4 separate regions of the Homo sapiens genome follow, and regions 1, 3 and 4 are each reported to be linked to region 2. Evidence: microRNA targets listed by miRTarBase, many of them from high-throughput screens and not tested one by one. Region 2 holds a microRNA gene; each other region holds the end of a gene's coding sequence.

Region 1 (7,126 bases), not on the chromosome of region 2:
TTTTGTAACCTCATACTCCTAAACATCATTGTAGACCTTGGTACAATTTTTGAATAAAGAAAAATGAGTGAAGAATGCAAATTAATGTATATATAGAAAAGGGAGGAAAAAATACTGATCAGCATTCAGCCAACATTTTTTGATCCACCATTGGGCCAGAACTGAAATAGCATGCCGTCGTCAAGCATCTGAGCTGGGGTGTAGAGGACAGAGGATAAGAGGATAAAAGATCTGGCATTTGAGGATTGAGGCAGGAACAAAGATCATGATGAACACGGAATGCCATGTAAAGGAAATTTTTTGTTTAAGGGATAACTTAGTCATTAAAGGTAATTAACATGGAGTGTTTTTCATTTAGAAGAAATAGTGTCTCCCATTCTAGAAGGGAAAGCACAGTTAAGGAGTCCATGAATGAAACTGTATGAAACTGACTTCAGTTTCATATGTATGAAACTGAATTCAGTATTTTAAGCAGTTATTTTAACTTTTTGCATTTATGTTTCTTTCCTTTTTCCATCTCAGGATCAAACACATATGAAGAGGCAGCTGCATATATTCAATGTCAGTTTGAAGACCTCAATAAAAGAAAGGACACAAAGGAAATATACACCCACTTCACATGTGCCACAGATACTAAGAATGTGCAGTTTGTTTTTGATGCTGTAACAGATGTCATCATAAAAAATAATCTAAAAGATTGTGGTCTCTTTTAAGTTTTGCAGTTCATGGTAAAATGCATTTTCAAACCAAATGAGTACTTATATATGGATCTCTGTAGACTAGAGTCTTGCAGCAACACAGAATGTAATATAAGGCAAATGCATCTGGGACTTGACCAAAGTTGTTCTGTTTTGTTTTTTTAACTGAAAGTAACAGAAGGACCTTTCTTAAATGTGACAGATGGTCCTGCAGTGTGAAACTGAAGGACAGTGTTAAAGCTGGGCTCTAGTATATTGATGATTTCTGCATAAGTGTAAATATGCAAATGTATGTATACATGTATTTATGACTTTAGTTTTCGACATTATTTTTAGGTTTTAAGAGTGGCAACTTAGGATTTTAGGGTGATGGCTTTGGAAATAACATAAATATACCTTGTACTGAATGACAGACTATTACTACGTTTGCCAGTTTTAAACAGCTTTATTTATGTTCATGTCCTGTAAATTTTTAAGTACAGTAATTAATATTAGGAAACATTACAGCCCTTATCTAGATTATATGTATACTTGTATTAATAAAAATGTTATTTGTACAAACATTGCACAGACTATTTTAATAACATGATTTGTTCTTTAAATTTTATGTGTTTTATTGAAATGTTCTTAAGATGAATACACCTGCCTTTGGATCAACTATTTAAACATTGTATGCATTTTGATTTTTCCTACTTTAAGAAAATAAAATAATTTAATTTTACATTAGATTCCACGTTAGATTTGGTTTGAAAAACTAAAATTTCAGATTTCTGAGGATATACTGTCTTAGACTTATTGTACACACTTAGTTTTTATTCACTTGTTTTCACTCTGAATTTTAATATTTGGCTGATATGAATGCATTGCCTCAAAGGTGATGTCATCTTAATTTTTATTCACTTTAAATAACTACATTTTTGTTTATAACTAAGTTTGGAGGGATCCTAAGAGCATTTTTGTGGGTAAAAAAAAAACCTGTGGACATAATGAATTTTGAGACATTGATTGGTGAGGCTTTTATTTCCCTTGAGGAGTCTCTTGTACCTAGCATACATGATAGCTCCTTGTTGGGAAGATAACAAGAAGGATCTTTGAATACTCTATTGCTGATATAATGCAAGATTTAAATTTATACATATAACTAATTTCAAATGTAATTATCACACTATGTTAAAATTACTTTTTTCCCTTAGATAATTCAAATTTCTCCACTTGCTTGAGATTATATCATTTCTTTTTCAATTATACTATTATTTCTGAGAATGAAATGGACGATTACACTTAGAAAATGAGTAATAGTGTTTAATAAGTCAGTGATTATATGTGTGCTCAAATAAGTGTTATGTATCAGCTAGATACTGAGCTTTGATAGAATAATTTTCTTTTGATTATTCATGATGTGTCATCTCTGACCTTGTTTCAGCAAAGTAAACAGCACTCCCCACCCCACCCTCCTTTTTTTACTCATCTTGGAAAAGGTTAGTCTTTCAGTACACGTTGCTGGTAAGTAGTTTCCAAGTTACGTGTTGTCACTGGGTTGAAGTATATTTGTGTGTGTGTGTGTGTGTGTGTGTGTGTGTGTAACCATAAACTATATTCATATCTGTTTCATTTGGAGGATTTTCTTCTTTGTAATGTAAAGAAATTCAAAGTTATCAAAGTTCCTTAAATGTGTTAGTTTAGATTCTTTATGTGCCTTTCATGAAAGATATGTTTTCATTAATTTTACTGGTGGACCTGTAATATCCACATTGTGAAGCTGTGTATGAAATTCAACTATAATATGAATAAATTTGAATCATGAGAATTATGGGTTAAAAAGCCACAAAGAAGCACATATTGGTGACCATCATTAATGAAATCCTGAACTTTATTCTGTGTAATTGTGTTAATAAATCCTAATAAATTTAAATTTTTAAAATTTTACAAACCTATTGGCTAAGTACATTTTGGATTAGAATTTAAGTATCAGTCTGTTGTTTCTTCATTTCTTCTTTTTCTATGCTCTTTTTACAATTTCAGCTACTCCAGAAGCTCAGATTTTCCCTGTTCCAAGCTATGAGATGTGATGCCACATTTGGAATTGCCTTCTTGATATCCCCTTCTGAGAATGCATTGCCTGCTTTTTAACTCATTATATTCAAAACTAAATTCATCATCATTCTCTCCTTACACCAGTTCTCACCCTGACTTTGCCATTTTTCCTTACTAAGTACCATCATCATTTATTCCTTCAATGGGGAACTTTTTAGTTTAAGTTCTGGGATACGTGTGCTGAACATGCAGGTTGGTTACATATGTATACATGTGCCATGGTGGTTTGCTGCACCTATCAACCTGTCATCTAAGTTTTAAGCCCTGCATGCATTAGGTGGAACTCTTCTGATTCCTAATCTCCATTTCAATTTACTGACAGTTCTACAAAGCCTTAAATCTGTTTTTTGTTTGTTTTCCTTTCTATTCCTACTACTACCTATTCAAGTCTTTGCTAAACTTCCTCTTAAAATGGCATTATTAGTTAAATTCCCCACCTCCCATTTCTCTCTTCTCGAAAAACCCAGGTTAGTTATCCTAATGTAGAACTGTGGCCCTATCACCTTCTATTCCTTGATCTGCATTGGCTCTGATTTGTCAATAAAATTAAGTATAAGTTAGCCTGCCATTTAATGCTCTTCATCACCTGAGGCCTGTTCCTTTCTACACTGTATCCAAATAGTGTCCTGTGCATAACCTGGGCTTTCCTCCAAGTACTGTATTACTTACTACATGTGATATGCTTAGAGCAGTGCCTACAATGTGGGAAGTGTTCATTTGTGTCTGTCAATGTTATTTTTATTAGCACTTTTAAAATGGTGTGTAAAATGTATTGGCACTTTTAAATTTGGCACTTTTAAATTTGTTTGTGATACCTCTTTTAGACTCCTCTGGCATCTGTTCTTCAGGGTGCCCTTCTGGGAACTACATGATTCTGATAGAGCTGCCAATCGCATTTCTTACTTCTCCGTCTCTAGGCTTAGACCTGACCAATCCGAGTCCTCCAGCATTGGACGAGTGAGCCAATCATTGTCCCAGTTGCCATTCTTAAAGTCCCTAAGGCGCTTGTGGTTTCTAAAATTCTCTTCATTTCAGTAACCTTCTAAAAGTCTACTTTTTTATGCCTAATCTAGTTTAATCGAATTCAGTTTGTTACTGAAAAAGTACTGATTAAAATCCATATGTTCTCATTGAATACTGACAGTAACTAGAGATCAAAAAAGGCTTAAAGAGGTTAATTAACTTGAGCAAGACCAGATGAAGGTTTTAAACCTAGAGCTTCTGACTCCATGTCTGTCAGAGGACCCCAAAGATGCTACCTTATTTCCAGAAAATGTGTAAGTAGTGTTTCGCCTATCCCCACTCTGCCCTTGAGTTCCTCTGAGCCATAATAGTTTTTCAGATTTAAAAAAGGAGATACTTATTAATGTCTTTCATCAGAGCTATTTTTTACTCCTTAGATGTGAAGCTACTTAAGAGCACAGTTACCATTTTTTACATCATTTGCCGTTTGCAGAACCACCTTATGTAAATGAATTTAGTTGATACTGTAATCATTATTACAGATGGTAGCATCATCATTGCTTAGTGTGTTATGTTGGAAGTAGAAAGTGATGGTGAAAATCCTAGGCTCTGGCACCCCGTCTGGCTTCAAATCCTGGCTCAATTTCTTATTAACTGGGAAAATCTGGGCAAATAATTTAGTTTTGCTCTGCCTCCATTTATATCATCTGAAAATAAATAAGGATTAAATAATCCATTAATTTTAATGGTTGTTGTCAGCATTAAATAAGTTCACAGTACATGTTAAGTACCTAGAGGGGAGTGTGGAATGTATAAGCCGTCAATACAATTTGCTGTTATTTGATTATAAATAATAGTTTTAAGGTGCCTTTAAAATCATAATCAGTGCTTAACAAATGGTTGTTGATACGTGCTTTGAATGAAATGCCTCAAAAACAAAACTCTCATAATTCGTTTTCATAATGAAAACTAAGTGTCTCACATATTGATACTGGAAAATGAGAAAATGCAATCTCTAATCAACTTGAGGACACTTCTGTCGTTTTAATGTAACCAATAGTATGAGAGAGTTTATATTTTAATGTTAGGTTGGAAATTTTCTTTTTTTTTTTTTTTTTTTTTTTTTGGTATGGAGTCTTGCTCCTTCACCAGGCTGGAGTGCAGTCGTGCAATCTCCACTCTCTGCAACCTCCAACTCCATGGTTCAAGCAATTGTCCTGCCTCAGCCTCCCGAGTAGCTGGGATTACAGGCATGCGCCACTACACCCAGCTAATTTTTGTATTTTTAGTAAAGGGGGGTTTCACCATGTTGGCCAGGATGGTCTTGATCACCTGACCTTGTGATCTGACCGCCTCGGCCTCCCAAAGTGCTGGGATTACAGACGTGAGCCACTGCGCCCAGCCAGTTTTCTTTTTTAGTTCTTTTCAAAACCCTTTCTTAACAGTTGAAATGCATTTATATAAAGAAGTTTACGTTTCACAATCCCACTGGCCTGTTTCCCAGGCATTTTTTTAAACCAATTACTGTTTGCTTTGGTGTCTGTTGTGATTTCTCTTATTTAGTTGGATTTTGTAGTTACTTTAAAAGTTACGAAATTTCACATTTCATCAAGTCCAGAGGCCAGAGACACCCAAATATGCACAGACAGGAATCAGCTGCAATTGTCCAAGCCAGAGCTGATTAGGCCTCAACTGGAATAGTCCCACCATGTAATAAATCTTCCTGAGTATTGTGTATAAGGTCAAATATTTCCAGCTTCTTTGATTTTACTGCCCGTCTTCCTAGGTCTCCATCCGTAAAGTGGATGGAAACACTGTCATTGAAGGAGCTAGTTCTTCAAATTTAATTTTTTTTTTTTTTTTTTTCCTGAGACAGAGTTTCGTTCTTGTTTCCCAGGCTGGAGCGCAATGGTGCGATCTCGGCTCACCGCAACATCCGCCTCCCGGGTACAAGCAATTCTCCTGCCTCAGGTTCCCGAGTAGCTGGGATTACAGGCATGCGACACTACACCCAACTAATCTTGTATTTTTAGTAGAGACGGGGTTTCTCCATGTCGGTCGGGCTGGTCTCGAACTCCTGACCTCAGGTAATCCGCCCACCTCGGCCGCCCAAAGTGCTGGGATTACAGGTGTGAGCCACCGCACCTGGCCAAAATATTTTTAATTGATTAAAAATGAGATAATTTGAGGAAACATGCATAGAATACTAGACAGAGACTATTTTAGCAGATAAGAGTGCCACTTTTAGTAAAAGAAGTTGTCACCTAGAAGAAAGTACAGGTGCTCCTTGACTTACCGTGGGTTAAGTCCTGAAAAGCCCACTGTAAGTTGATAATACCTTATTTTGAAAATGCATTTAATACACCTAACCTACCAAATGTAGCTTAGCCTGGCCTAACTTAAAGGTGCTCAGAACACTTAGATTAGCATACAGTTGGACAAGATAGCATAAAGCCTATTTTACAATAAAGGATATCTCATGTAATTTTCTTGGATACTGTACTGAAAATGAAAAACAGATTGATTGCATGGGTACTTGAAATATGGTTTCTAACTGAATGCATACCAGTTTCGCACCAATGTAAAGTTGAAAAATTGTTAAGTTGGACCATCATACGTTGGGGACCATCTGTACATAGAGTAGGACTCTTGAGAGCCTAAGGGCCACAGAAATTCCTTTTCCAACTGCAGTGTCTATGGAGGGATTCTTATAATTAATTTTATTCCTGTGCAAACACACTATCTGTGTATTCTCTATTTTACCAGGATTTTTTGTTTTTGCTAAATTAGACATACAATTTTGCAGTTATTTTTTACTAAGTTGACAAATGTTTGTACAATTTCAGTGTAAAGCTAGTCTTCAAAATAAACCACTGTGAAGATTGGATATTACCTTGGATTTTCTGTTGTGCACTCTTGAATTTTAATTATGTTCTGTGGAAACTTCACAGAGTTTTAGCTTTGATCCTTCCTTCACTTTTGAAAATCAAGAGTAAAGTTAAGTCAAAGCTACTTCTAAACAGCTCTATCTTTAATTTCTATTAAATAGTACTGAGGTATCAATTTTGTAGCTTGTGGAATGCGGACTATCCCAGCAGCAAATTCATTAATATGGTTTGTATAGGACTCACTTTGCAGCATTCAATTTTAGTATAACATGTTTTCCTGTTTACAAATATAAGTAATTACCTTTCCGTTTTAAGTGACCAATTGTCCTAGCAATCTACTTCACAAGGCAATTTACCTGTAATAAATATAACTTTTTTGCAGACTTGAGCATACGTTTAAACCATTTAACCATTCTTGAATTTCTTAACATAGTAAGTTACAAATTTTAACTATGAATCTTCTTCTTCGAAAGGAATCTTGTC
Region 2 (7,154 bases):
TTGGGTCACCAAGTCCACACTAAAGAGGGGCAGCACCGTCCAGCAGCACTTGGTTCAAACTAACTCTGGGGAAAAATCAGTGAAATTGTGAGATATTGCCAATTCTGACTGATTTCCCTCACATTCTTGCAGTGGAAATCTAGGTCGGTGATTGATATTTTTGCCAAGGTCCTTCAGGCCACTGCCCCAGCCGCCTGGACTGACAAATACAAATGAGGAATGGAACCTATAAAAGGAAAAGAGATTTCTGGGAACTTTGCAGCCGGGATCCAGCTTCTAAGCTGTGGATGGAAACTTTCAATCAGAAGAAGGAGGTGCCTTATCCAGGGACCTAGGCACAGAGAGTTCCTTACTGCAGTGCCCCCCGACAAATCTGCCCTGACATGGCCGTATGTGGATAATGGTGATAGCACGGCACTGCTTTGATTCACTACAGTCTTTGTAAGACCAGGTAGGACCTACAGTGGTTAGAAGTCATGGTCATTTTTTTCCTGGCAACCACCAGCTGTTTCTATTTCCCCAGTACACTGTACAAATGTTATGCCTTTCTATTCATTCACTGACCAGGGCAAAGTTGGAGAGCACAGTTTCATTGAACCTGACCTCCCAGTTGATGGCTCTCAACTGAGCACAGCCCTTGGCTGAAAAGTACTGCCATGTTTAACGTAGCATCCCCTTCTGGAAACAGCATGCATTCAGCAACTAGTCTATGATTTGATAGATTCATCCCCAAACTCAAGGTGGGAAAACTCAGAACCCTCCCATTCCCCACTGTAGATCTCCTAATAGGATTAGCTGAGGTTTTTATTGCAAATGCATCACAGCTCACTTTCTCCCTTTCCTGGTCTTACTTCCTTCCCAGTGCTATAAGAACAGACACCAAGAACCCATTTCAAATTCGTGCAGCAAAGCTGTTTTATAGCCTGCATCCCAGAGAGTCCTACTTAAGCAGACAGGAAGCACAAATGGACTGGAGTAGGGGGTTTAAATACAGGAGCTGAAAGTAGCATCAGGCATGACCTGGCCCTGTCAATTACTAGCTGTGTGCTTTTGTGCCAAGTCATTTAACCTCGGTATGCCTCAGTTTCCACGACTGCAAAATAGAAATATTAATAGCACCTAGTTAATTGAATTATGAAGATTACATGATATAACAACAAAAAATAAAGTAAAAATGTCCTGGTCCATAGCAAGAAGTATAATTGCTTAATTAAATGAATTAATAAAATAGAGCAGAAGAGATCTGTTTTTTCTGTCCTGCTTTGTCCTCTGTCTCTCATCTCTCTTTGCCTCGGGGAAAATTCATTTTCTATTTCTATTTATACTTTTATATCGTTAGCCCTTGATATTCAGTTAATATCTTTATATTATACTTTCCTTTGATTACCATGAAAGGCAGAACATAGAGGGGGGAAAAACCTTGCTATTGAAATATTCCTCCTAAAAGATACAATAAAAAGCATTTATTCACGAAGTTCAGAATACCACTCTTTATAAATTATTTCTTTGTCTCTTTTTTCCATAGACATATAAAGAACACTAATGCTATAGGAAAAGAATCAACATGCATTTCTTCTTCACCACTGAAAAATAACCCAATAATGTGTCATGAATCTAAAAATGACCATGTCTTTCATTTGCATTAGTTCTCAATGAGGAGCAATTTTGCCACCCCACTCCAAGGGAACATTGGGCAATAGCTGGAGACAATTTGAGCTGTTGGACTGGGGGAAGGTGCTAGAGGCCAGGGATTTTGCTCAACATTCTACAATGCATGGGACAGTCCCCTTACAATAAAGAGCTATCCTACCCCAAAGGTCAACAGTGCCAAGGTTGAGAAACTCTGACCTACATGGAGCATCTGCATAGTTTATGTTTACTCCCTATGAATTCTTAAGAAATTTATTCACTTTGATGACTATCTTTTAAAAATGAGAAGATATGCTGACAACATATTGAACATGATTATGTCAGAATTTTCATTATCAAAGTGCTAATGGCTCCAGTCTGATGTCAATATTGCCTTCTGTCTAGCTGAACAGGTTTTTCTGTCTTTTTCCTTTCCTTAAATGCAAGGTAACCCCTTAAATTGTAGATTCTTATCTGCTATGTGCTGTGCAAGCAGAGATTTGAGTTGATTTGAATCACATGGACACACAAGTTGGAATGGATAGAGAACCTCGCTTGACTTGATAGTGTTGTATGTACAGTCTGAAATGTCAAGAAAATCTGAAATGTCAAGAATATAAATACTTTCAAAAGACAAGCATCAAAAGCCTTCTTATCACCTCTTTTATAACGCCAATCATGTATTGCCACATTTGAGCTGTTATGATGTGATATGGCTGAATGGAAAAGACACTGGCAATGTTCTAACTTGCTCAGAGGTCATATATAAAACCTTCGTGGATGCTCTGGACTCATCCTTGAGACAGGACATCCTATGGTGTCCCTGGGCATTATTAGCTTCACAAAATTACCCTAAGACTCAATAATTATTTTGCACTCTGTCTTAAGATAGGGCCATCCTATCTCAGAAGATATTATCAACTAGCCTATCCCAGATCACCTAGGTATTACACCCCGCATGCATTAGCTATTTATCCTGATGTTTTTCCTCCCCTTGCACCCCCAACAGGCTCCAATGTGTGTTGCTCCCCTCCCTGTGTCAATGTGTTCTCCTTGTTCAGTTCAATTCTTATTTTATCTTGATTTTTTGTTTAATCTAAGAGAAGCCAGTCAAGGACTTTAAGCAAGAGCATGATATCCCTGGGCATTATTTGTTTCATAAAATTATCCTAAGACTCAGTAATTCTTCTCGACTCAGTGTTGAAAGTATGCTCTTAGGGCATACTTAGGCATGCCCCAAGTTATCCTAAGAATCAACAATTCTTTTGGTTTCTGTCTTCTCTATTATAAGCTGGGTGTCTAAGAGATAGACAGTATATGGTGGTAGAGGCACAGGATACACTGGTGCCAGGAAAAGCAGGCACAGGAATTTCATCTATGATGGTAGAATTTGGGGAGACTGATGAGTCCTTAATCAAATTAGATCATAGCATTTTGTAGGTGAAGAAAATGAGATGCATCTACCCTTTTCTCTTTCAGTCAAAATTTAATAGTTCAATTCTAATACGAATTTTAATTTAATTTTATGTTGTGGGATACATGTGCAGGACATGCAGGTTTGTTTCATAGGTAAACCTGTGCCACGGTGGTTTGCTGCACCTATCAACCCATCACCTAGGTATTACACTCCGCATGCATTAGCTATTTATCCTGATGCTCTTCCTCCCCTGGTGCCTCCAACAGGCTCCAATATGTGTTGTTCCCCTCCCTGTGTCCATGTGTTCTCAGTGTTCAGTTCAATTCTTATCTTGATTTTTTTTTAATCTAAGAGAAGCCAGTCAAGGCCTTTAACAAGAAGTGGGCAGCAGTGGAAGATGGGTAACTCGACTTGATTTTTATTTTCCAAGAATATGGTAACAACCCTATGAAGAAAAGTTGGAGGAAAACAGGACTGGAGGTGGGGAGATCTGTTATATATTCATTAGAGTAATCCAAATAAGAAGCGATGGAGACTCAAACTCAAGTAGTTGCAGCAGTAGTGGAGAAGAAATAGATTGGGCAGTTATTATAGAATTAAAATGTATAGGTCTTGGCAATCAGTCAAATGTAGAAAGTGGAGAAAAAGAATGGATATGGAATGTGAGGAGGACATGAGGCTGAGACTGGCTGAACAGGCAAGATGTAATGCCACTTATTAATCAATAGAAATTAGAATCAGCCTAAGGACTGAAGGGAAAATGACAAGTTGAATGGAGATGTTGATGCAGAGGTGACTATGGAACCCCTCAGCAAAGATAATGGAAAATGCAATTCAACAAGCAGCTTTGCTACTTAGAAGAAATGACTTTCAAAGTTCCTATCCCAGACATCAGTATTGTCATCAATAAAACCAAAAGGTATTAATTTACTCGTCAAGGTCTCAAACCATTATAGACTAAGACTGGTTTCTTGACTTGGCTACAACTCTACACAAAATAGCTAGTGTTACATTTACAGAAATATTAAGAAAATATAGGTATATGCATTAAACTCAATTTCCCCTTCATATTCTGGATGTATTTGAGATTGCCATATATCTACATAGTTTTAAATATTTAAACCTAAGTAACTATTTAATATTCAATAAATGTGTCACATTTTATCTTGTCTTATATCAGATGTTTTGCTGTTAGTTTCTTGCATTTTATCATTAATGTAATTCATTTTCACAGAGTAATGCCTACATTCATAAAAAGAAAAATCACTACTTGAAAGACTTGATGTTGTCATGTTTGTTGAAGAATGTTCCTGAGACAATCTTGGAAATGTGAGTGAGAAGTGGGATTTGGCAGAATCTGGAAAGTTGGTCTTCAATCTGATTGTAATCCACTTGGAAAGAAGAACATCAACCAGTGAAAGACTTAATGCATCTGCATGAATGTAAATCAATCAAATAGATATTTAAGAAACTTGTTCCTTTGCTGCCATTTCAAAAGTCAATACCATGTAATATTCTAGAACAGGTCATGACAAAGTTCAACATAAAAGGAAATAACGTTTTACTAAATGCATAAAGATTTATATAATTTAAGGCTTTTGCAAACGTATAGTTTTCACAGTGATGACCTGCATATTATAGATTTGTGAAATTTTAAGTTTTAATGTAATCACAAATCTATAACATACAAGTCATCATTGTGCTTTTCAGCACTAAGAAATCTATTCTTCCACTGATGTGTGAAAGATTTAAGTGACCAGACACTCCTAACAGTAATAGCTTTGCTCTTTTTCCCTCATGCATCTGTACCAGATATTATTGCCCAGAGGACTCTGAGCAGTGTTTCTGTGTATATTTAAGAATTAAACGGTAAAATTCTACTAAATCATAATGCCAACATGATAAAATATCTGCAGTAATCATGTCCATCAGATAATGACAATAAAACATTATTATTCCATTAAAACTAAGGAGAGAAATCAACTAAAATTTGTATGCAGGAGTATTAGTTCTTACACATTTTTAAGAAACATTTGTTTACAAGTGCTGGTAATTTTTAAAAAGTTAACTAAACTGCTTAAATTGTATTAGTAACAATTTCAGGTTTACTAAATTGTTTATAAGCACCGCAGCTCTATCATTTTTAACCTTGGGTTGTAAATATATAATATAATATAAACATGTAAGTGTGTTTGTATGTATGTCTGCTCAGGTGATAAAAAATAAAAAAGTAAACAAGAAAAAAAGTCACTTAACCATTTCTATATAAAGCAGTAATGTCAACTGAACATCAGGATAAAATCAAGCAACAAGAAGACAGACTGTCACATAGGATATGTGTTATTTGTATCTAGAGAGAGTATATTCCCTTCAAATCTCTTTGGGATGACAACTTCAGTCATCCCTAGAGAACACAGATTTCACAGCACCAAAACTTCTGCTGCCAGAGTGTGTGACGTGGAGGCAGCTCCATGTACTAGAGGAGAACTTGCCTACTGCAAGGTGCACTCCTGCCCATCCCTCCATGCCAACACACTGGGTCACTGTCTCTCATGTCAGTGAGAACTGCTTAAGAATAAACCCTCTGAGGACAGCATGATTCTCCTCTGCATGGAGAAAACTAGGTTCTGCTGTCCAGAATTATGTCCACAGAATATCCCTGGTTCCTCCAACATTAAAGGGCCTAGTTGAACTCTAGAAAAGAAAAAAAAGCAATCTTTTAATCCAATCTGCTACCTTCCACCAAAAGACAACTGAGAATGATAGCAGGGAAGAAGAGGGGAAAATACCTGTAATATACTCAAAACTCTTGATGGGAAGCCAGTATCGTGCAAGGCATGCAACATATTTTAAATCTATAACCACATTTAACCTTCATAAAAACACAGTGAGATGGGCATCCTCTCCATTTTCCACACGATGAAAACTAAAGCTATCAAAGTTAAGTAGCATATCCTGTTTATACAGCTAACTCAGGGCCAGGGCAAACTCAAACTTTAGATCATCTGGCACCAGAGCCCATGTCCTTTAAGTTTCATTGTTTTGCCAACACGTCAAGTGATTTTTTTAAATTTTAAAATAATATTATGTATTTTGACTTGAGTATATTACTCAAAACAGAGCCTTGTATGTGGGATAGTGTAAAATTCCTGCTTGTTTTAATATTTTTATGCACATTAACATTTGGGAAAAACAGCCCTTGCCACTTTGTCTCCATATTTGTTGCCTACAGATGACCTGAATAAATTTAACTCTCTACTTTCTTCAAGTGTGAAGCCATCAGCACTGCTAATAAGTGATGAGCATGGCAGATAGTCCCTTCTGTCAACAGCAAGCTGCTTAAATTAAAACCACTCATTTCCATCTGAGGCCACCCTCATCCACGTGGGATATTCAGCTTTCTCTCTCAGCCAGGTTTTCAGACTCAAACCTGCAAGTCACTTGCATTGATTTTGTCTTGTTTGCCAATTTACATGTAACTTTGGCCCTGGACTTCCAGTAATGACAACAACATTATGCTTTGATGCTATCCATTTTCTTGATTTATGTGGGAATACTTTTCTGATTGTCTCTAAGACTCATTATATAAGGTGTGTGTAGCCCAGTCAATTGGCAAGGGTACCAAGATATCAATGGGATTGCAGAGTTTTCCTTCTCTGGTTATTCCCTGCAAGTGATGAAAAAAAAATATGCATTTTCTCCTAGTGCTCTTTCCTAAAATTCCAAGTGAAATATAAAATACTTTCATTTGTTTTTGCCAACTTAGATTTATGGACTCTGCTCGAGCTCCAAACAAAATTTTAATTTGGTCTAATCTTTATTTCCTAGGTTTTTATTAACCAACTATATGTCTGAGATAATTTTATAGCTAATTATTATAGTTAGGGGAAGAACACAACAATAAAAAAAACCCAGTCATCTCATTTAGACACCAAGATCTGCCAAGAAATATTTTACTAAAAGCAATAACTTGTGGTTAATATCACTAACAGTCCTGGTAAATAAAAAGATATGCAGGAATTACATGAAGAGGATACTATAATAGCAATGATTCTATTTCAGAGATCTACAATATGCACTATAATATTTTCCTGATAAGTCAATATTG
Region 3 (7,027 bases), not on the chromosome of region 2:
AAATTGGGTTGGTTCTTGTCTGGCAGGCATAGCCTCTTTTTTTAAAAATTTTTCTTTACTTTCATTTATTTCATTTCTTTTTTTATTTATATATATATTTATTATACTTAAGTTCTAGGGTACATGTGCACAACGTGCAGGTTTGTTACATATGTATACATGTGCCATGTTGGTGTGCTGTACCCATTAACTAGTCATTTACATTAGGTATATCTCCTAATGCTATCCCTCCCCCCTCCCCCGACATAGCCTCTTTTTACCAGGGGTTATGTAAAATTTACTTGCTGTGTTCTCTCTCTCCTTTAGATCATCGAAGGTAACATGAAGGCCCACTTTATTATGGATGATCCAGCAGGAAACAGTTACTTGCAGGTATAGTAGACCTTCCCTGATGTTTCATAGAGATACATTTTCTGATCTTCCTTGAATATGTATCATTTCCCTAGAAACTGAAAGACTTGATTCTAAATGGACTGCTTTTTACCAAGGAGGCAGAAGTTAGAAGATACATAAGGGAGAAAAGAGGGGGGTGTGGGAGGGGATTTTTTTTTTAAGTGTATGTAAAGAAGGAAAAAAAAAGGATACTCTGAGGCCCCTTTTTTTTCTGTAGTCAAGCTCTTGTCCCAGTTCTGGAGTTTTCATTTTGCAAATCTGATTATGGATTGAGGAGAAATGGTACCTTGTCCGGAGGCCAAGATAGGAAACTGATAGGCTTTAAGTTGACTGAGGAGAGAGTCTGGTGATTGATGTACCTTTACCATTTATTGGATACTTACCATGGGTCAGGCAAAACTCTTCTAAGTTCTTTCCAAGATTAAGACCATTTGTCATACTTTTCATAAGAAGGTGCAGATATAACAAAATAGGTGGATTGTTCCCTGATTCTGGGGCTGGGGTCTTCTACCCCTGGCCCATGTGGGCTCTGTTGCTACCCACTAGTTCAGTCTAGCCATGGGAAATTGGAGGCCAATAAAAAGAAAAAAACCCAAAACTCATTCTGTTCTTGGGAAGGTGGGAATTGGAAGCTGCCTGCAGAGAGGGGGAGTGGCACAGCGGCACTGATTGTCTCTCCTTGACCTTGCAGAATGTGTATGCGCCTGAAGATGATCCTGAGATGAAGGTGGAGCGTTACAAGCGCACCTTTGACCAAAATGAGGAGCTAGGGCTCAATGACATGAAGACAGAGGGCTATGAGGCAGGCCTGGCTCCGCAACGGTAGCAGTGGGTGGCTCAAGGGCCAGCCTCCAGCGCTGCTCTTTCTGTAGGTTATTTATTAGTATTGGATGAAGGCGAAGGCTGGGAGTGTCTTTCCCACCAGCCCTTGCCCATGGTGGGGAGGACATCTGGTCTGAGTCAGAGATCTGTGCACACTTTCTAAACAGCTTGTGATGCAAGTGTGAGCCTATTGTGTTACTTGACCTTATTTTGGAAGTTTTGAATTGGCCTAGGAGGAAACCCAGAAATGAACCAGGGGTATGTCATCACTTTTTTCATATCAAGTCCTCACCCTCCTTCCACATAATGCTCTATCCTCTAAGGTTGGAACTCTGAAGTTGGAGAAGGTGGAATAAAGTTACACCTGGAGTTTGTTGTTGGTTTTGAGTATATAAAATACTGACTTTGAACAGGAAAGGAGTCTCCTGAGGGGAGACCGAGTCCAGCACAAGTGAAGGAGTTACCATTGAAATGATGACTTTCAAACAGCACTGGCCTCTGTATTGACCCTATCCTTGTTTGATATCATGCTGTTAGAATTCAGCCTCCTAAAGAAAATTTTCCCGTGTATCTACTGTAATTTGGGGATTGCAGCTGGCATTTAATTCATTCCTTCAGCAGATGCTTGCTTATCTACTTTATGCCAAGCACACCACAGAACAGAGGACAAAATAAATCTCTTTCATGGAACTTGAAGTCTAGTGGGGAAAAATGACAATAAACAGATCAGGAAAACAGTACATCAGATGGTGATTAGTGTCATGGAGGAATGTAAAGCAGGGAATGGGGCTGGGTTGTGCAAGGAAATGGGGAGTAGGGAAGATCTTCTGAACAAGAAGGTGATAATTTGACATTTGGGCAAAGCTGAGGAGGAGGTCAGGGAGTGAGCTGTGTGGGTATCTGGGGGAAGAGATTTCCTGGCAGAGGGAACTGCAAATGCTAGAGCTGTGAGGTTAGAGCCAGTGGGGGTACCTGATCAGTTAGCCCTACTCTCAGTTAGAAATGTTGAAACACATTCATCCAGAGAGAAAGGAGGCTCTCTGCAGTTCTTCTGAAAGTTAAGGACCAGTGAACACTCTGCTGCTTGGGCCCTGGACTTCCCAGCCAGTGTTCTTTGCACTGTAGTCTCCTGCCTCTCATAAACAAAAGGTGACTCCTGTGGTGCAGACTGCAGGGTATTTGTTCAATAAAGACCAGTTCATTGATTAAGATGTTATCACAAACCTTATTGCTTTGTGTTGCAAACTTTTTTTTTTTTTTTTTTTGGTAGAGACAGAGTCTCGCGCTGTTGCCCAGGCTGGAGTGCAGTGGTGTGATCTTGGCTTATTGCAACCTTTGCCTCCCGGGTTTAAGCAATTCTGCCTCAGCCTCCCGAGTAGCGGGGACTACAGGCGCACGCCGCCACACCCAGCTAATTTCTTTTGTATTTTAGTAGAGACGGGGTTTCACCGTGTTGCCCAGGCTGGTCTCGAACTCCTGAGCTCAGGCAATCCGCCAGCCTTGGCCTCCCAAAGTGCTAGGATTACAGGCGTGAGCTACCGCGTCCGGCTGTGTTGCAAACTTAACTCTGAAGAATGAGTTAGAGATGATTTAGCAATCAGACATCTACTCTCGTTGCTCTGTTAAACTACTCTCAAAGGTCACAAGTGATTTTCCACTTGGAAAGTGTTATCTATTTCTGTCACATTTGATAGTGGACCATCTCTTCTTAACCCTTCTTTTGGCTCTCGAGATACTGTACCCTTGGTTTTCCCTTCACTTTGAATATTTCTTATTTGGACACTTTGCCTCCTCCCCTCTTACTAAATTTGTTTCTGAGAGTTCTGCTTTCAGACATCTCTCCATATCAGATTCTTTGGCATCTTACTATCATGTGGGACTAACTTCCATACCTGTATCTCTAATTTCTGTAAGTGAGGGCGAGAGTAAGGTGTTTGGAGACTCAGGTTAGCAAATGACTCATTCAAACTATAAAGCTTCAGTACTTTGGGCAAACTTCTCACAGGCAACTATTCTACCCTAAGAGATTATCTCTAGGTATGTTTCCAGCTGACTTGGGAATCTAAGTTTACCAGACAACCCTCTGATCTATCATTTGGTCTCTTAAGTAGACTTCCCCATAGTGTAGGTGTGCTCTGTTAAGATAAACTGCAGTATCAGGTTCATTTTCCATTGTGAAGGAAAAAAAATGGCACTCTGGCTTATTACTGAATCTCTTGTGAGTTTGGTTGGTGTGAGGCAATCTCCCAGAATCCACCCAGTTCCTAGGAAATGATGACCTGAGTTTCTGAACTTGAAGACTGAGGACCAGGTGCCAGACTGGGATAACCCAGCTAAGGTACTTCCTGCCCTTTGATGACAAGGCATTCTTCAGTTTCATACCCTTCTCTTGAATTATCTTTCAGCTCCTTTCTCATTTCATAAAGTGTGTCAGGATGGGAGCTTACATATAGTTAACTGAGTCTTGCTCCACAGCACCCAGCATATGACACATGGTTAATAAAATCTGTTAAAATCCTCCATCATAGATTAAACCCTATTAGGACACTAGGGATAACATCTATAGGTAAAAAGATAGGGAAAGGGTCTCGCTTTAAGGCCAGGGTAGGTGAGTCAAAGTGCCAGGAACATGTGGATTCAGTTTCACAGCCATGAGTAACATTTAAGTGGAAAAGGTTTGTGATTGTGTTAAAAAAGGAAAGTGGTTCATGCATGAGGGCACGCCTCCTACTTTCATGGGTCAAGTATGTGAAATGCAGCCATGTTCGGTCATTAGACGTGTGGACGAACATACAGGTAGGTACTGAATGTACATCTGTGTCATGATGAGTGGAGGAGGGGAGGTGAGTGTTGGGAGCAAGTATGAAGGGCAGTTGACTTGGCCAACTGAAAACTTTAATGATGGCAACACTTTCATTCTAACATCAGTATATTTCCTTCTTTGTACACCTGTGGTATGTGCCTGATGCACACTGCAGAAAATGGTGTCTCTGCTTACATTTAGGGCAGTGGTGGCTAAGACTACTTGGCTTTATTCCTATTAAAAAATGTTTTTTACACACTTCTTTTTAAGGCAAATGGCAGTGTTTCCAACTGTGGAGAGAAAAAGCTGCTTATTTTGTGCGTTCACCTCAGTTTAGTATTGGCACTTCCAATGCTTGTTTTCCTAGTCTGTAAAATGGGGATAATTAGGATAAACAAAATTATCCCCATTTTACAGGTGACAAAACAGCCTCAGAGAGGTTACTTCCAGAAGGAAGCAGAGCTTTTTTTTTTTTTTTTTTTTTTTTTTTTTTTTTTTGAGACGGAGTCTCACTCTGTTGCCCAGACTGGAGTGCAGTGGCGTGATCTTGGCTCACCACAACCTCTGCCTCCCAGGTTCAAGCGATTCTCTTGCCTCAGCCTTCTGAGTAGCTGGGACTACAGGTGCACGCCACCATGCCTGGCTAATTTTTTTTTTTTTTTTTTTTTTGGAGACAGTCTTGCTCTGTCACCCAGGATGGAGTGCAGTGGTGCGATCTTGGCTCACTGCAGCCTTGCCTCCTGGGTTCAAGCAATTCTCCTGCCTCAGCCTCCTGAGTAGCTGGGATTACAGACGCCCACCACTGCACCCAGCTAATTTTTGTATTTTTAGTAGAGATGGGGTTTCACCATGTTGGTCAGGCTGGTCTCAAACCCCTGACCTCGTGATCCACCTGCCTTGGCCTCCCAAAGTGCAGGGATTACAGGCGTGAGCCACCGTGCCTGGCCAGAAGTAGAGCTTCTAAGAGGCAGGTGTCAAACCCATGCCAGTCAGACTCTGAAACCTGAGGTCTGAATATTTTAAGCTCAGCTCCACAATTACTGTATTTGTTCTATTAGATACAACTGCAGAGAGAGGCCAAAGCTCAGAGCAGGCCATTGGCACGGCATCTGATCCTGCTTAACTGCCCTGCAGCACAGGGTGGAGACACTTGGGCCTTGTCAGGCTAAGGGACTGGGGTAGGATGGGTAGCAGTGGAATTGAAGACAAAGAAAACAAATGGGCAGAAGATGGGTGGGTGGAAGTTCAGAGGGCTATCCTGGCAGTGTTCACTGGAGCAGAAGTGTGAGGCTTTCTGAATGCCTGCTGACACCAGGGTGGGGCAGGGCTGTGTAGTGTGAGATGCACCAAATTGGACGAGAAGCCAAGGCAGGCTTGTGTATGGGGTACCCTGGGGCCCTCCGCCTAGTGAAGCCCTATCTTCTCAGCCCAGCGTCCTCGTCTCACAAGCCCTCAGAGCCCCAGCCTGCTTTCCTTTCTGGGCCTGTGCTGCAACCCCCTCAACATGGCCCACTGGGTAAAAATTCATGCTTCAAGACTGATCCCCAAGCCTGTTTTGTATTATATGAGTAAAGAATTTTTTAAACACTTATCCCCAGATAATGTGTATTTATTTATAAAGTATAGCCCTGTCTGCTTGACTAATATATTAAAAAAGTGACCTTTTTGACTCTTGGTCCAAGAAACTATTGTTTGCACTTTTGTGTAGTTGTGTATAGCATCCTGCAAATTCTGTCAGAAGTCTGTGATTTCAGTAACACTAAAACTTCTCTCTCAAATGGTACAAGTTTTCAGTTTTAAGACAAGTTCTGGGAATCTAATGTACAACATGTTGACTATAGCTAATAATTCTGTATTGTTTACTTGAAGTTTGCTAAGACAAATTTGCTTAAGTGCCCCCCCACCGAACTACTACATAAATTAGTGAAGGATGTTTTACTTAATTTGATTTTGGTAATCATTACACAATGTATAATTATATCCAGTCATCACATTGTACACCTTGAATATATATAATTTTTTGTCAAATAATAAAGCTGGGAAGAAAACGATAAAACTGACAATCTAACATATATGATGAGGTAAAAAGATCTGGTATTTCAAGAAATTTGGATGACCTCTTGCACCCCACTTCGCTAGCCTCTACTCCCTAGAGTCATGTTCTGACTATGTGAAGTTGAGCAACTTCCTTAATCTTGCCACGCTTCAGTTCTTATCTGTAAAATATGATAATGAAACGATTTGAGAATTGTGAGGGTTAAATGAGATAATTCAGGTAAAGCTCTAAACCCCCTGCAAAGAATAAAGTCTTTTCTTTCCCCCCAAAACTTGAGTGTTAGAATTCATTCTCTCTGGTTTCTCTCTTTTACTATGCTAAAAAATGATCCAGGTCCGTCCTTCTCATTGGCAAGATTGTTTTACAGTTTCCTTCAAGAGATAACTGGGGGCTACTTGTAATAGAACACTAGAAGAGTTACACAGGTCTTAGAAACTACGTTTTTCATAGTAATTATGTTGGTTTGCACTTCCTGGCTTCCTTTCTTGGACGGTAGGTACCTGGAAGCCTAGTGGAGCAGATTCCCCCCACTTAAAGATACTTATAAAAATAACGAACATAGTTCCGATGACCATGTGCCCAACACCGCTCTGCGCACTTCACACAGTAATATCATCTCAGCCTGTGACCGTTCCGAGTTAGGTGCCGGGATTCTCCCTGTTTTGTGATAACTTGCCCGAGGTCGTACAGCTAGCCAGCTATGGAACCAGTATTCAAACTCGGCTACGCTGCAGCCCGTGGCCCTCCACTTTCTTGCTCGTGCTCTGGAGTTTAGGCGGCCGATGGGGGCGGGGTCCTTTGGGTCAGGTTGTGGCCTCATAGAACAGCGCTTGCTGCGGTTGGATGGATGGGTGGGTGGGTGGGTGAGTGAATGAAGAGAAGAAACCTGGTGGCGTCGTCCCAGGGCTGTGGAGCGCCCCGAAGGTGCGCACGTCCCTGGCTAGCCTGCGAGC
Region 4 (7,136 bases), not on the chromosome of region 2:
CCTCCGTCATCGGGTTCTGGGGACCCCTCTCACCTCCGCGGTGAGAGATGTGTTTACTGAGGAATCGCTGCTTCTTTCTCTGGTGCAGCAAGGTCGGGTATTTAAGCAACAAGAATGAGGTCACCAAGTATCCTCCTAGCGTAGAGAGAAGGTAAAAAGCCGCAGTGGACGACATCTCAGTCACCGTGTGGGAAGTCTCCCACCTCCGGGCCCTCTGAACTCCGCTGCGGCAGTAGCAACGACGGCGGCGGCGGCGGCTGCTCGAGGTCGGCTCGCCCCCAGCCGGTGCCACTGGTGCAGCGCACTTGTCGGTGCCGGCCTACTGCGCACGCGCAGCTGGACCCCAGCGCCCCAGCAACAAAGAGGCTCCGACGCGCAGGCGCTCTCCGGCTCCCGTGTAGGAACCTGCAGAGATCCTGGACTGAGCGTTTGTCACCTAGCTCTGTGGACGGACCCTCATGAAGAGAAAGCTTGCAAACCTGCCAGTGTGTTGGCCATCACTCAAGCAGAAAAGACTATTCACGGGCAGCCTTTCCTAATTGGAAAATCCACATCAAAAAGGAAAGATTCCAGGGCGCGTCTTATCCCTTGCTCTAGAAAATGCAAATAATTTGTACCTATGGAGGCGATAAAGCTTGCTAAAACACTAAATAAACTCCTCCGTTTATCTAGCCTAGAGAGAATTTCCCCTATGGTCGCATATACTAGAAAAGGTACTGGTTTATCAGTCAAATATCTGAGAGATCGGCCCCTGTCCTCCCTCATTTCATTGTGAAAGTGCAATCCTCATTCTTTGTACACAATAGGCACTGTAGAAGTATTTGTTGACTTACAAGTCCGTATAAAATAAGGAAACTTTGTTAAGGTTATAAGGTATTACCTAAAAGTCCTAGAAAGACAGATAACTAAGTTCCAGAAGGCCCTACTAGTTTTCCTTTTACCCGACAAATTACAAACTGCTAACACACGAAAAGCCACACACTTCAATGCAAAAGAAATAAATCACCCAGGACTGAGGGAGAAATTTTACGGAGAAGACCATATCTCCCACAGGACTAGAAAAGCAGAGTGAATATTTAAAATCCTGATTCAGCCGGGCGCGGTGGCCCACGCCTGTAATCCCAGCACTTAGGGAGGCCGGGAAGGAAGGGTGGATCGCTTGAGCCCGGGAGTTCGAGACCAGCCTGGGCAACATGGCGAAACCCCATCTCTACAAAAAATAAAACAAAATAAGCCCGGCGTGGTGGCGTGCACCTGTAGTCACGCTACTTGGGAGGCTGAAGTGGGAGTATTGCTTGAGCCTGGAAAATCGAGGCTGCAGTGAGCTATGACTGCACCACTGCACCCCAGCCTGGGCGACAGAGCAAGACCCTATCTCAACTATAAAAAGAAAATTAGAAGAAAATAGGGGGTGGCTGGGCACGGTGGCTCAAGCCTGTAATCCCAGCACTTTGGGAGGCTGAGGCGGGCAGATCATTTGAAGTCAGGAGCCTGGCCAACATGGCGAAATTCCATCTCTACTAAAAATACAAAAATTTGCCAGGGGTGGTGGCGTGTGCCTGTGATCCCAGCTACTCAGGAGGCCGAGGCAGGAGAATCTCTTGGACCCGGGAGGCAGAGGTTGCAATGAGCCGAGAAGGCGCCACTGCACTCCAGCCTGGGTGACAGAGCGAGACTCCGTCTCAAAAAAAAAAAAAAAAAAAAAAAAAAAAAAAAAAAAAAAAATTCCTTTAGTCGAGGTTGAAGTGAGCCTTGATGGTGCCACTGCACTCCAGCCTGGGCAACAGAGCAACATTCTGAGGAAACTTACAGGTTAAAAAATCATGTGTTCTGTTTAGGGCTGTTAAACTATTTCCTGTAGATCAACTGACGCACATAGTTCTATTTTTCAAAATATCACCTGATGACTATGGAAGCGTCTAGAATAAACCACTGTGGCATAAAAATTATTTTGAGGCTGGGCATGGTGGCTCACGCCTGTAATCCCAGCACTTTGGGAGGCTGAGACAGGCAGATCACCTGAGGTCGGGAGTTCGAGACTAGCCTGGCCATCATGGTGAAACCCCGTATCTACTAAAAATACAAAAATAAGCCAGGCATAGTGGTGCATGCCTGTAGTCCCAGCTACTAGGGAGGCTGAGGCAGGAGAATGGCTTGAACCTGGGAGGCGGAGCTTGCAGTGAGCCAAGATCATGCCACGGCACCCCAGCCTGGGCGACAGAGCAAGACTCTGTCTCTTAAAAAATATATATATATTGAGCTGAAGGCATTTAAGTTCCTGGAATCCCTTATCAACCTAAAATCAAAGGCTCCCAGAAGAACTTAACTGTCATAAATCTCCTCCCTGGGAACAATTCTAATCCTGTCAGAGATGAGAGACATTGTCACAAAAGTATGACATCTCATGGGTATTCTCCTAAGGACACATTTATGTTTCCAAAAAATCATTTCTTTTTCCAAAAAGTGCTTTCTCCCCAGCTTCTAAGAAGTCATTTGTTCTTCTGGAAGTACCCCCTACCCCTTCCCACCCGTAAATTTTAGATTATATATAAACCTCAAATTCTAACCGCTTTTTTTTTTTTTTTAGACAGAGTCTCACTCTGTGGTCCAGGCTGGAGTTCAGCAGTGCCATCTCGGCTCACTGCATCCTCTGCCTCCCCGGGGGTTCAAGTGATTCTCCTGCCTCAGCCTCCTGAGTAGCTGGGGCTACAGATGCGCACCACCGCGCCTGGCTAATATTGTGTGTGTGTATATTTTTCTTTTCTTTTCTTTTCTTTTTGAAAAGGAGTTTCGCTCTTGTTGTCTAGGCTGGAGTGCAATGGCACGATTTCAGCTCACCACAACCTCTGCCTCCCGGGTTCCAGCGATTCTTCTGCCTCAGCCTCCCGAGTAGCTGGGATTACAGGCATGCATCACCTGGCCCGGCTAATAGTAGAGACAGGGTTTCGCCATGTTGGTCAGGCTGGTCTCGAACTCCCGACCTCAGATGATCCACCTGCCTCGGCCTCCCAAAGTGCTGGGATTACAGGCATGAGTCACTGGGCCCGGCTAATTTTGTACTTTTAGTAGAGATGGGGTTTCACCATGTTGGCCAGACTGGTCTTGAACTCCTGACCTCAAGTGATCTGCCCACCTTGGCCTCCCAAAGTCCTGGGATTACAGGTTCATTCTTATATTTTCTAAGAAGACAGAACAACAGGAAAAGTATGAATTCAAAGTCAGAGTTCTGAATTCTTTTATTATTTTATATAATTTTCTTTTAATGAAGGCGAGAGAAGAAAGAGGAGCATTTACTTTTTTTTTTTTTTTTTGAGATGGAGTCTCACTCTGTTACCCAGGCTGGAGTGCAGTGGCGCAATCTTGGCTCACTGCAACCTCTGCCTCCTGGGTCCAAGTGATTCTCCTGCCTCAGCCTCCCAAGTAGCTGGGATCACAGGAGCACGCCACCAGGCCTGGCTAATTTTTGTATTTTTAGTAGAGACGGGGTTTCACTATGTTGGTCAGGCTGGTCTCGATCTCCTGCCTCGGCCTCCCAAAGTGCTAGGATTACAGGTGTAAGCCACCGCACCCAGCCTATGTATATTTTTAAATTAAAAAACAATGGCTTTAAATGTAGCAAGATGTGTTAAATACATATTTCCTATATATTGAGACTAAAATCTACAATTCTATTTGTCCAACGTTTCAAAATTAGTGTGTCTATGGAAATGTAATCAATTACACAAGAGTTTAGGTATGTTAACTTAATTTGTACTTACCTAATTGGTGATATATCACAATATACCACTATATTGCCATCTGATTGGTGATAACAACTAGATGGTGATAAAAATTAGATGGTGATATAGTGGCATATTGTCATGTGGATGCTGGTGAAAGTTACCATAGATTGGTAAGAATTTTTTTTTTTTTTTTTTTTTTTTTTTGAGACGAAGCCTCACTCTGTCACCAGGCTGGAATGCAGTGGCGCAATCTTGGCTCACTGCAACTTCCGCCTCCCGGATTCAAGTGATTCTCCTGCCTCAGCCTCCCGAGTAGCTGGGACTACAGGGGTGTGCCACTACACCCAGCTAGGTTTTGTATTTTTAGTAGAGATGCGGTTTCACCATGTTGGCCAGGATGGTCTCGATCCCTTGACCTCATGATCCACCTGCCTCGGCCTCCCAAAGTGCTGGGATTACAGGCATGGGCCACTGCACCTGGCCCAAGATCTTTTTTTTTTTAGACAGGGTCTTGCTCTGTTGGGGTGGTATGATCACAGCTCACTGCAGCCTAGACCCACTGGGGTCAAGCCATCCTCCCACCTCAGCCTCCTGAGTAGCTGGGACTACAGGCATGCACCACCACATCTTTATCTTTTTTTTTTTTCTTTGTAGAGACAAGGTCTCACTATGTCTTCCAGGCTGGTCTTAAGGGATCCTCCTGCCACCTAAACCTCCTAAAGTGCTGCAATTAAAGGCATGAGCCATTGTGCCCAGCCTGATTGATAAGATTTGGATCACTTAGCAAATTGTTTCACAGTACAGGAATTTTTAAAGAATAGTCTGCATTGACCAGGCAAGGTGGCTCACGCCTGTAATCCCAAGACTTTGGGAGGCCAAGGCAGGTGGATCACCTGAGGTCAGGAGTTCAAGACCAGCCTGGGCAACTTGGCAAAATCCCACCTCTACTAAAAATACAAAAATTAGCTAGGCGTCATGGCACGTGCCCATAATCCCGGCTACTCAGGAGGCTGAGGCAGGAGAATCACTTGAACCCAGGAGGCGGAGGCTGCAATGAGCCAAGATCCCGCCACTGCACTCCAGCCTGGGTGACAGAGTGAGACTCCGTCTCAAAAAAAAAAAAAAAAGAATAGTTCGCATTAATATACTGGATTAAAAAGTTTAGTTTAGATAATATTCGTTTAAATTATGGTATCTCATCAGGCCAAGATAAGAACAAAACCGTTTAACTAAAGTACCAGAATTGTGAGTCAACCAATTGTGCTTTTTTTGGAATTAAATCAAGTATCTTCATATTATTACCAGATAACCTAATGTATCAACTTGTTTAGAAGATAATTTCAAGACTAGTATCTTAAAAAAAATCCCAGCTAGGCTGGGCTTGGTAGTTCATGCCTGTAATCCCAGCACTTTGGGAGGACAAGGTGGGCGGATCACCTCCTGAGGTCAGGAGTTCGAGACCAGCCTGGCCAAGGTGGAGAAACCGTCTCTACTAAAAGTACAAAATTAGCCAGGCGTGGAGGCGCATGCCTATAATCCCAGCTATTTGGGAGGCTGAGGCAGGAGAATGGCTTGAACCTGGGAGGCGAAGTCCACGGTGAGCCGTGATTGCACCATTCCACTGCAGCCTGGGCAACAAGAGTGAAACTCTGTCTCAAAAAAAAAAAAAAAAAAAAAAAAAAAAAAAAAAAAACCAGCTAAAACATTATTTTAACAAAAACAAAATTTTGGCTCAACATGGTTATGCAACATTCAGTTATAATAGAAACATGTTTAATTATGGAGAGTAAAACAGAAACGAGAAAAAACAGGTATCATCCATGTATTTTATATTCTTTTCTAGAACAACCAATCTTTATTAGAAAGTTGTAGTCACGTTTACAATAAATATCAACAATATAATGAAAAAGTAGAACAAATTAGTTTCCAAATACTGAACTCCTGTAACCAAAACACATTTTGGATTTGGGAAAACACAGTAAACACATACCAAAAACACAGCCACAAATACCAAAAACAAAAACCAGCTCAAGTATAGGATTGAACTGGCTGGAAAACACTTATTGTGTTACTGCCTTAAGAACCCCACGGAGCACCTTGTAGCTCATTAACTGCACATTTTCCTTAGGGGGGAAACAAGGTCCTCTCTCAGTCACATATGCATAAGGAAATCTCAAAACCCAAAGGCCATCAGGTGGAAGGGTGATTTCTTGTTTTTCTGGGTAGAATACCGGACATGGTGGTGGGCCTGGCTGAACCTGAAAAACACAGGTAGTATAATTATTTTCACATTTCTCAATATGAAACAACTGAAAGATAAATGCCTAAACAGACGATAGGTTCAAAGAACATACAAGGCCAGACCTGGTGGCTCACGCCTGTAATTCCAGCACTTTGGGAGGCTGAGGCAGGTGAATCACGAGGTCAGGAGTTCGAGACCAGCCTGGCCAACATGGAGAAACCCCATGTCTACTAAAAATACAAAAAATTAGTCAGGTGTGGTGGCGTGTGCCTGTAATCTGTTACTGGGGAGGCTGGGGCAGGAGAACAGCTTGAACCCAGGAGGCGGAGGTGCAGTGAGCTGAGATTGCACCACTGCCCTCCAGCCTGTGCAACAGAGCGAGACTGTCTCAAAAAAACAAACAAATAAATAAATAAAAGAATATATAAGATTAAGCAGATATGGGTACACTCCTAACTCTAATTGTATCCAATAGTATATTATTTAGTCTCAAATATTATTCTGCTTTTCCCCAGAACTTTTTTTTTTGCAGGGGGAATGGAGTCTTTCTTAGTCACCCAGGCTGGAGTGCAATGGCGCGATCTCGGCTCACTGCAACCTCCGCTTACAGGTTGATTCAAGTGATTCTCCTGCCTCAGCCTCCCAAGTAGCTGGGATTACAGGCGCCTTCCACCACGCCTGGCTAATTTTTTGTATTTTTAGTAGAGACGGGGTTTCGCCATGTTGCCCAGGCTTGTCTCGAACTCCTGACTTCAGGTGATCCGCCTGCCTTGGCCTCCCAAAGTGCTGGAAATACAGGCGTGACTCACTGTACCCGGCCTTTTCTCCAGAATTTTAACTTCAAGTTCTGCCTTTGAATGAAATGATGTGAATTGATAGCATGAACGGATTAAAATACCCACAATGTATTTTTTAAAAAACAGAATATTAGGTATGGAAGGTATTTAAATTTAAGACCTGTTTAATTAAATAATTCGTTTTTTAATTTAATTTTTTGTAGAGATACAAGTCTCACTATGTTGCTCAGGCTGGTCTTAAACTCCTGGGCTCAAGCAATCCTCCCACCTTGGCCTCCCAAAGTTCTGGGATTACAAGCATGAGCCACTGCCCTCAGCCTGAAATAATTAGTTTTGAGGCTAACTTGTACTTTTTAAAATCAATCAAAACAAACA

Evidence for each region. The annotated mature microRNA hsa-miR-4719 reads UCACAAAUCUAUAAUAUGCAGG and lies in region 2 at 4,674-4,695, opposite strand. An mRNA with a match to its seed (bases 2 to 7 or 8) in the 3' UTR can be bound and repressed. Matches are read on the target gene's strand: a 7mer-m8 pairs with bases 2 to 8, a 7mer-A1 pairs with bases 2 to 7 and ends in A, and an 8mer does both.
Region 1: the mRNA of GNAI1 is a reported target of hsa-miR-4719. Seed matches in the 3' UTR shown: 7mer-m8 at 2,245-2,251, 7mer-m8 at 3,508-3,514 and 7mer-A1 at 3,598-3,604.
Region 3: miRTarBase lists ZPR1 as a target of hsa-miR-4719. Seed matches in the 3' UTR shown: 7mer-A1 at 3,892-3,898.
Region 4: miRTarBase lists SMG8 as a target of hsa-miR-4719. Seed matches in the 3' UTR shown: 7mer-m8 at 5,725-5,731.

What each region holds. Positions count from the first base shown.
Region 1 is chr7:80,216,781-80,223,906 of GRCh38, forward strand. It overlaps GNAI1 (G protein subunit alpha i1), which reads left to right. Exons shown (of 8, transcript NM_002069.6): 8 at 523-7,126. The coding sequence ends at 713. Among named protein-coding and RNA genes, the nearest start is that of GNAI1, 86 kb to the left of the region's middle.
Region 2 is chr16:76,866,529-76,873,682 of GRCh38, reverse strand. It overlaps MIR4719 (microRNA 4719), which reads right to left and starts at 4,747; the gene lies at 4,664-4,747.
Region 3 is chr11:116,773,117-116,780,143 of GRCh38, reverse strand. ZPR1 (ZPR1 zinc finger) reads left to right here. Exons shown (of 14, transcript NM_003904.5): 13 at 307-372; 14 at 1,085-6,345. The coding sequence ends at 1,219. BUD13-DT (BUD13 divergent transcript) reads right to left here and starts at 6,673. Exons shown (of 2, transcript NR_186226.1): 1 at 6,633-6,673; 2 at 5,939-6,234. RefSeq lists enhancers at 5,076-5,245, 6,609-6,698 and a silencer at 6,819-7,018.
Region 4 is chr17:59,213,649-59,220,784 of GRCh38, reverse strand. SMG8 (SMG8 nonsense mediated mRNA decay factor) reads right to left here. Exons shown (of 4, transcript NM_018149.7): 4 at 5,555-5,980. The coding sequence ends at 5,783. GDPD1 (glycerophosphodiester phosphodiesterase domain containing 1) reads right to left here and starts at 274. Exons shown (of 10, transcript NM_182569.4): 1 at 34-274. The coding sequence starts at 175. RefSeq lists an enhancer at 1-248.